Regions from separate parts of the Homo sapiens genome. Here region 2 is linked to region 1. A link means that fine-mapping ties the variant in region 1 to the expression of a gene that starts in the linked region. Tissue or cell type: pancreas. Region 1 holds a variant in brackets; the other region holds the start of a gene. All regions are shown on one strand. Distances are between the middles of the regions. Region 1 overlaps SRPK1 (SRSF protein kinase 1). Region 2 holds the start of LHFPL5 (LHFPL tetraspan subfamily member 5).

Region 1 (4,526 bases):
CTAGATTGCCCCTCAAGCTGTGTCAGTATTCCTTTCTGCTACCTGGAGTTTGCAATTTACTTCTGGATCTGAATGTAATTAGTCTGTTTAAATTGTCATTGTTTTAACTTTTCCATGCATTTCATGCTATCTTCTAAGCCATTCTTCTCAAAGGCAATAGTCTAGAGAAGGTTAACAAAGGATGGTACACTGGTTTTATTTGGGTTTGTTTCTTAATAGACTTTATTTTTTAGAGCAGTTTTAGGTTCACAGAAAAATTGAACAAAAAGTACAAATAAGTTTTATATGCTCCCCACACACAGAGCCTCCCCAACTGTCGATCTGCTGCTCCAGAGTGATACATTTGTTACAAACAATGAACCTACATTGGCACATCATTATTAACCAAAGTCAGTAGTTTACATTTCATTTCACTCTTTTAGAAGTTTTGACAAATGTATCTATCATTATTATATACAATATCGTTTCACTGCTCTAAAACTCCTCTGTGCTCTGCCTATTCATCCCTCCCGTCCCCCACTCGCTGGCAACCACTGATATTTTTATTGTCTCCATAATGTCAAATAGTTGGAATCATACAGTATGTAGCCTTTTTAGATTAGGTTCTTTCACTTAGTAATATGCATTTAAGGTTCCTCCATATCTTCACGGCTTAATAGCTCATTTCTTTTTAGCACTGAAGAGTATTTCATTTTCTAGCCTCCTGAATAGCTGGGACCACAGGCGTATAGCACTGCCGCGGCTGGCTCTGTGTTTTTTGTTTTTTGTTTTTTTTAACTTTAATTTCAGTATTTTTACTGAACTCTATATATGAGACCATGAGATTTTTTTTTAAAGTACTGGTATCAGGAATGATTGACAAGTTTTGGTGAACAAGAATCATGATTTGTTTCTCTGTTGCTTTGGGACTATAAACCTCGGAACAACTCAGGGTAGAACAAGTATCTGCTCTATCACTGTGGTTCAGTTTCTTAATAAACAACTGAAATGTAAAATAAGCAATGCCAAGCAAGAAGCCATAGCACTGCTGACATTTAGAGATAGTATTTGATTCCTAAACCTATCCTGAAACTTCTGGTTTTGTGGTCTCCCTCTGGACGGTAGTACAGTTTTGAGAAAGGCTGTTCTGTCATGAAACTGCAGAAACTGACACTGGTGAGCCACCAGGACCTAAACTTGGGTCTAAATTGAGAATATGCCCCAACTAAGTCCTGGACTCTACAGTTCTTGAGGTTGTTTGGACTGCTTAGTACCATTGATTTAATCAAAATTGACCTATGACTAGCGCTTATTTTATAACTGTGCTTCCCTATCAATAAGGTCATTTTTTAAAACTGCTGTTGGCCAGGCGTGGTGGCTCACACCTGTGATCCCAGCACTTTGGGAGGCCGAGGCAGGCGGATCACGAGGTCAGGAGATCGAGACCATCCTGGCTAACATGGTGAAACCCTGTCCTACTAAAAATACAAAAAATTAGCCGGGCTTGGTGGCGGGCACCTGTAGTCCCACCTACTGGGGAGGCTGAGGCAGGAGAATGACATGAACCTGGGAGGCGGAGCTTGCAGTGAGCCGAGATTGTGCCACTGCACTCCAGCCTGGGCGACAGAGCGAGACTCCATCCAAAAAAAAAAAAAAAAAACTGCTGTTGTGTACTAATTTTTAAAACTCCATTTGTAATCAGTGAGGATTTATGTAGCCCTGCTTTTCATTCTGCATGGCACTTATTCCCAAGGATATCATTTCCTAAGACACTCTCGAGCACTGTAAGAGGTTTTTCTATTAAAGGAGACAGGCTTTTCTTTTCCTAATTAGGGAGTGCTGACTTGCCAGTCACATAGGCTAGGCTCCTGACTCCCTTTACACTTAATCTTCTGATTTTCTAAAGACCTACGAATTGGCCAGGCATGGTGGCTCACGCCTGTAATCCCAGCACTTTGGGAGGCAGAGGCGGGTGGATCATGAGGTCAAGAGATTGAGACCATCCTGGCCAACATGGTAAAACCCCATCTCTACTAAAAATACAAAAATTAGCTGGGCGTGGTGGCATGCACCTGTAGTCCCAGCTACTCCGGAGGCTGAGGCAGGAGAATCACTTGAACCCAGGAGGCAGAAGTTGCAGTGAGCTGAGATCATGCCAGTGCACTCCAGTCTGGCCGGCAGAGCAAGATTCCATCTCAAAAACAAAGGACCTAGGAATCAGGAACTTCCCATCTGGGACAATCTAGGGAGTACTTCCTATGCAAAAGTTAATGATGTACTTGTCAAACACTAAAGAGTCATAAGTAGAAGTCTGAATTTTTTTTTTTTTTTGATTTTTTTTGTTTGGTACAGAATCTCAATTTCTAGCCATGTGTGATTATAATGTAAGAAAGACCTGGGCTGGGCGTGGTGGCTCACACCTGTAATCCCAGCACTTTGGGAGGCCAAGGTTGGCAGATCACGAGGTCAGGAGATTGAGAACATCCTGGCTAACGCAGTGAAACCCCATCTCTACTAAAAATACAAAAAATTAGCTGGGCGTGGTGGTGGGCACCTGTAGTCCCAGCTACT[C/T]GGGAGGCTGAGGCAGGAGAATGGTGTGAACCCAGGAGGCGGAGCTTGCAGTGAGCCGAGACCGTGCCACTGCACTCCAGCCTAAGCAACAGAGTGAGACTCCGTCTCAAAAAAAAAAAAAAAAGACCTGTTCTTCTCATGAATAATAACTTAGAATCACCTTAATATCCAGGTATGCCCCTTTCCGGCCAAAAAAGGGAAACTCAGGAGGGCTGAATTGCTAGGGTTTAGGGTGGGGAGGTTTGGGCATGAAATAACCCACATGTTAGTATTTACTGAGTCTTTGCTGTTTTCTCCATTTTATTAAGATAGGGATGTGGAAGGAATGCTTTAGGAATAATCTTAAGTTTTTGTTTTTTTTTTTTTTTAAATGATCTATAAGTTTTCCCAAGGGAACAAGAGTTACTTCATATTGAGCCAAATAGCAATCAGCTTTCCAAAGGCCTTCTTTTCTTTTGTGCTTTCATATACTGTCCTCTTTTTTTTTTAGGCCTTTGAACTGGCCACAGGTGACTATTTGTTTGAACCTCATTCAGGGGAAGAGTACACTCGAGATGAAGGTGAGTCCCCTTAACCATGGATGTGTGTGCGTGGTATTTACACTTTCCACATTAAGCTAACATCATTTGTTAGTACCGAAGAGCCTTAGTCTTGTTAGTGTGCAAAACATGTAAATCCCAGAAAAGTTAGAAATATAAAAGACATTTTATATTAGGTTTTTAGATATTTTCTGAAAGATACTAAAGAGCTCTGTCAGAGTCAAAAGGCCACAGTTCACCTAAAACTTCTGTGTGCTGGACAATTTTTTCTTCAACATCTAGTTATCTTCCTTTCTGTATATATCAGTGGTTCATTCTTTACCCAGTTTTTTACCTGCTCATCAACCTGTTGCTCAATTATGCCTCCAAATTTATTTAGAGGTCAGTTATTTTAATATACACACACTACTTGAATGCAGAGACTATATCCTATTTCTATAAATTCTGCCAAAATTTAGCATTCTTTTTTCCCTTTTCTGAATATAAAACTAATTTTTTCTTTTTTGGAATTCCATTTTAAAACAAAGTAGAATGGATTTACATGTTGTGGTAGCCAGTGGGAAAAGCCTAGGCTGCCAGTTACTTTGTCTGAGAGACTGTGGAAGCAGCAACTGTGTGTGTCTGATTTTTCTATTATGATGGCATCCAGATAACTAAATGAGTTAATAATTTGAATGAACAAACAAAATGGTTTTGTGATTTTTTTTTTTTTTTTTTTTTTTTTTGAGACGGAGTCTCACTCTGTCGCCAGGCTGGAGTGCGGTGGTGCGATCTCGGCTCACTACAACCTCCACTTCCCTCGTTCAAGCGATTCTCCTGCCTCGGCCTCTCGAGTAGCTGGGACTACGGGCTTGTGCCACCATGCCCAGCTAATTTTTGTATTTTTAGTAGAGACGGGGTTTCACCATGTTGGCCAGGATGGTCTCTGTCTCTTGACCTCGTGGTCCACCCACTTCAGCCTCCCAAAGTGCTGGGATTACAGGCGTGAGCCATCACGCTCAGCCAAGAAAATGTTTTATACAGTTGAGGCAGCTTATGTTTTAGTTGTAGGATTAATGAGGATTATTTTGAGATATCACTACAGCATCTACCCTCCCAATGTAGAGCATGTTCTTTACTTTTTGTGCTTTCCTTGAATCTTTGGGAATGCATATTTCATGCTGTATGGAACCAAGAGTGCTCTTTGTTTCTCAAAATGTGGTCTTCTGGGATATTAATAGGTAATGTTAGTAGGACCTGCTAATATTCCTAATGAATACCATTTGGAAAATGCTATGCTATGTAATTCCCATGAATGCCTATTTAAGTGGGTAGAGTTTGGACATATTTTGTATATATAAGCCCCATGTTAGAGGATACTATAATTACTACTTGATTTTACCTACTCTCTGCTTGCTATTTTTCTGGGTTATAGGTTTAGGGTTATAGGCTTACAGT
Region 2 (4,000 bases), 38 kb after region 1:
CAGCCCCCACATTGTTTTAAAGGACCCTAGGCCAGGTGCTGTGGATCACATCTGAAATCCCAACACTTTGGGAGACTGAGGCAGGCAAATCACTTGAGCCCAGCAGTTCAAGACCTGCCTGGGCAACATGACAAAACCCCGTCTCTACAAAAAATACAAAAAAAATTAGCTAGACATGGTGGTGCGCACCTGGAGTCCCAGCTACTTGGGAGGCTGATGTGAGAGGATCACCTAAGTCCAAGGAGGTTGAGGCTGCAGTCAGCTGAGATCATGCCACTGCACTCCAGCCTGAGCCAAAGAGTGAGACTCTGTCTCAAAAAACAAACAAACAACAACAACAACAAAAGGACCCTAAATAGCTTCCTCTACCTCACAAAATATCACTCCATTTGCTGCCTTAAGTATAAAATCCCATGATCAAGGAAAAAAGACTTTCACTCCACAATGAAAGAGGGGAATTTAGATGAAAGTTTCTATAGGCAAGGTCATACCCTGCATAATAGTAACACTCCAAAATCAGCAAGAGACCTTAGAATCTGAGAGCAGTTTGGAGTGGGAGAGAGAGAATGAGGACAGAGTTCTGGGCACTCTTAAAAAGAACAAAAGCCCAGAGGTGGGAGATGAAGGCATCTAGAATGTGCTTGACTGGTGTCACTACTTTGTGCTAGGGTTGAGTCCTATTCCCACATGGCCAACAATGGAAGCTTCCTTCTTTCTCTCTCTCACAGCTGCAAAAACTGATGTGATGGCCTGGGAATCAGGACTGGCAACTGTGTGCTCCTGGGCAAGTCACTTCCCCTTACAGATGAGGTTCTGGGCTCAGATGAGGTTCTGGGCTCAGAACCTCATCTGTAGGATGAGAGGGTTGGACAGCTTGGTCTCTAAGGTCTTTTCTGCCTCTGCCATTTTAAGATTCTCAACTCCTCAGAATCTTCTGCAGAGCACTGAGTAGGACTGGGCTATAGGAGAACAGCTAAATTTAAGGCCCAGAGCCCTGGCAGAGGCTGGGATGGTGCAGCTGCAGCTGTGGCCCCGGGGTGGGCCCCTGCCTGCCCTCCCACCATCTCTGCTTACCCGCAGCCAGCTGCATCCATGCACAGATCTTATAGACTGTGGCCGTGTTGCAGATGAAGAACAGGCTGAAGCAGATGATGGAGCCAATGATGAGGAACATGCCCAAGGCCACAAAGAACATGGCAGTCTTGAAGGCTCTAGAGGGGATGGAGGAGAAGTCTAGGGGGCCGCCCTTGCAGATGAGCTCGGAGGACAGCACGTTACCCACGCAGTAGGAGAAAAGGCCGAAGTAGCCTGCCTGCGGTGTGTTGACGCTGTCGCCGATCCAGTAGGGCTGGATGAAGAGGGCCATGACCAGTACGGAGAAGCAGATGGTGAGGGTACCCCACATCACGCCCACGGCTCGCGAGTTCCGCACATAGTTGGTATGGTAGATCTTGGCTGCCTCCTGGGCCGGCAGCAATTTCACCATGGTGAGGGCAGCAGGCCCTGGGCTGGGGTCCCGTGGGCTGCAAGTCCGTAGCTTTGTGGATGGAGGCCTAGAAGCAGGTCACTCCCCAGCGGGGTTTGGGGAGGAGGCTGAGGTCAGGGCACCAGGTGAGGTCCCTTCAAGGCAAGGGGAAGAGGCTTAATAGGACAAGGACAACCTTGATTTGGTCAAGGAAAGCTTGCCAGGTGCCTGTGTCCGCTCTAGCCGAGGCTGTCTCCAGTCTCCTGCCTCCTCCCAAGCCCACCAGGGCCTGCTGGCGCCGCCCTGCCCGTCTCCCTCTTCCCGGCTCACGGCTCCCGAGAGCCCCGCCCCCTCCTCCGTCCGCGGAGGGCGCCGTTTCAGCACCGCGGCCAGCGCCCCGGGGTTCCGGGCGAGGGGCGGGGCCTGCAGCAGAGGCGGGGAAGGGGCAGAGCTCCCACTACAGGCCCCCGCCGCGGGGAATCGGAACACCGTTCACCTTCCTGAACCGAGATGACAAGAATTGGGAAGGTGGGGATGTGACTGACACATTCCTACTGCTCAATTCCAGCAGCAAAAACGCTTTCCCCCCGCAAAAGCGCTGTCCACATCCCATCCCACCCCGCCCCTGCCTGGCTCCCTAGTCGCCTTCCCAGAACCTCCAACTCCACCACTCCGGAGGTCAGCAAAGCCTTTCCTGGTTGCCTTCTGGTCACCGGTTTTTCGTCCTTAGCATTCAGTCAACGATTTCTAAAAGCATACTATGTGTTAAGATTATGTTGGAGGACATCTAAGCAAAACCACAGATAAAAAAGACAGGGCCCCCGTCCTCAAAGACAGTGAAATATTTACATATATAATATACGTATATATGTAGTCTATATAAATATATATATAAAACGCCTGTATATGCAGACTGATTGTGTGATAACAGAAGCAACTACAAAGTATAGCAGACAACATTCTTTATGAGCCTTCTCAGACCTGAACATATGTGTTTTGTCAAATACAATGCCTTTCTCCCCTTGTTTCTATTTGTTTGTTACATATTTCCCCATTTAAATATATATATGTTTTAATATATTATATATATACATATTTCTCCTGATTTTATAGGTAAATACATGGCTAGTGTAAAGAACTAGGAAAATTCCACTGGGCGTGGGGCTTACGCCTGTAATCCCAGCACTTTGGAAGGCCAAGGCAGGCGGATCATGAGGTCAGGAGATCGAGACCATCCTGGCTAACACAGTGAAACCCCGTCTCTACTAAAAATACAAAAAAATTAGCCGGGCGTGGCAGCACGCGCCTGTTGTCCCAGCTGCTGGGGAGGCTGAGGCAGAAGAATGGTGTGAACTCGGGAGGCGGAGCTTGCAGTGAGCCGAGATCGCGCCACTGCACTCCAGCCTGGGTGACAGAGCAAGACTCCGTCTCAAAAAAAAAAAAATAATAATAATAATAACACCAACGTCCGGAGCTAAGGAAAGACAAGACAATCTTAAAAACATGGACTTTGGGGTTCAACAGGCCTGGATTTGAATGAGCTACTTACTAAGTAACCATCCATGGACTTAACCTTCCTTCCGGAGCCTCAGTTTCGCCATCTATTAAATGCAGGAAATGCACTTACGCCGGGCGTAGTGGCGGGTGCCTGTATTCCCAGCTACTCAGGAGGCTGAGACAGGAGAATTGCTTGAACCCCGGGAAGCAGAGGTGGCAGTGAGCTGAGATCGCACCATTGCACTCCAGCCTGGGCAACAAGAGCAAAACTCCATTTCAAAAAATAATAATAATAATTTTTTTTTTAAAGTGCTCAAAGGTACATTAGTGGTCTCTAATCCCAGCACTTTGGGAGGCCAGGCAGTCCGATCACTTGAGCTCAGGAATTCTAGACTAGCCTGGGCAACATAGCAAGACTCCCGTCTCTACAAAAAATACACAACTTAGCCAGGCATAGCCAGGCATGGTGGTGCTTGCCTGTAGTCGCAGCTACTTGGGAGGTTGAGGTGGGAGAATCACTGGAGCCCAGGAGGTCGAGGCTGCAGTGAACCATGATCACACCACTGCACTCCAGTCTGGGCTTTAACAAAAAAAGAGAAAGTACTCAAAAATGTTGGTGATTATTATTATTACCATTGTTAATCTCTGCAGTTTCCCCCTTCTGAACATACTCCTTTACACAATTGGATGATGTATGTACAATTTTATTTTATTTTATTTTATTTTATTTTTATTTTACTTTTCTTGAGACAGAGTTTCACTCTTGTTGCCCAAGCTGGAGTGCAATGGCATGATCTTGGCTCACAGCAACCTCCGCCTCCCTGGTTCAAGCGATCCTCCTGTCTCAGCCTCCCAAGTAGCTGGGATTACAGGCATGCACTGCCATGCCCAGCTAGTTTTTTGTTTTGTTTTGTTTTTTGTTCTTTGAGACAGAGTTTTGCTCTTGTTGCCCAGACTGGAGTGCAGTGGCGCGAACTTGGCTCACGGCAACCTCCACCTTCCTGGTTCAACTGATTCTCCTGCCTCAGCCTCCTGAGT

The links. PIP is the estimated chance that this variant, and not a neighbour inherited with it, causes the effect. A credible set is the group of variants that fine-mapping cannot tell apart.
Region 2: LHFPL5 starts here. The variant in region 1 is the best candidate, but not a certain one, in a credible set for the expression of LHFPL5 in pancreas (GTEx, PIP 0.75).

Annotation. Positions count from the first base shown.
Region 1 is chr6:35,841,119-35,845,644 of GRCh38, reverse strand. SRPK1 (SRSF protein kinase 1) reads left to right here. Exons shown (of 16, transcript NM_003137.5): 14 at 3,041-3,110. Among named protein-coding and RNA genes, the nearest start is that of LHFPL5, 38 kb to the right of the region's middle. RefSeq lists a silencer at 2,391-2,546. The variant C/T (reference allele first, on the strand shown) is at 2,551.
Region 2 is chr6:35,803,157-35,807,156 of GRCh38, reverse strand. It overlaps LHFPL5 (LHFPL tetraspan subfamily member 5), which reads right to left and starts at 1,805. Exons shown (of 4, transcript NM_182548.4): 1 at 1,075-1,805. The coding sequence starts at 1,486. RefSeq lists a silencer at 1,767-1,936.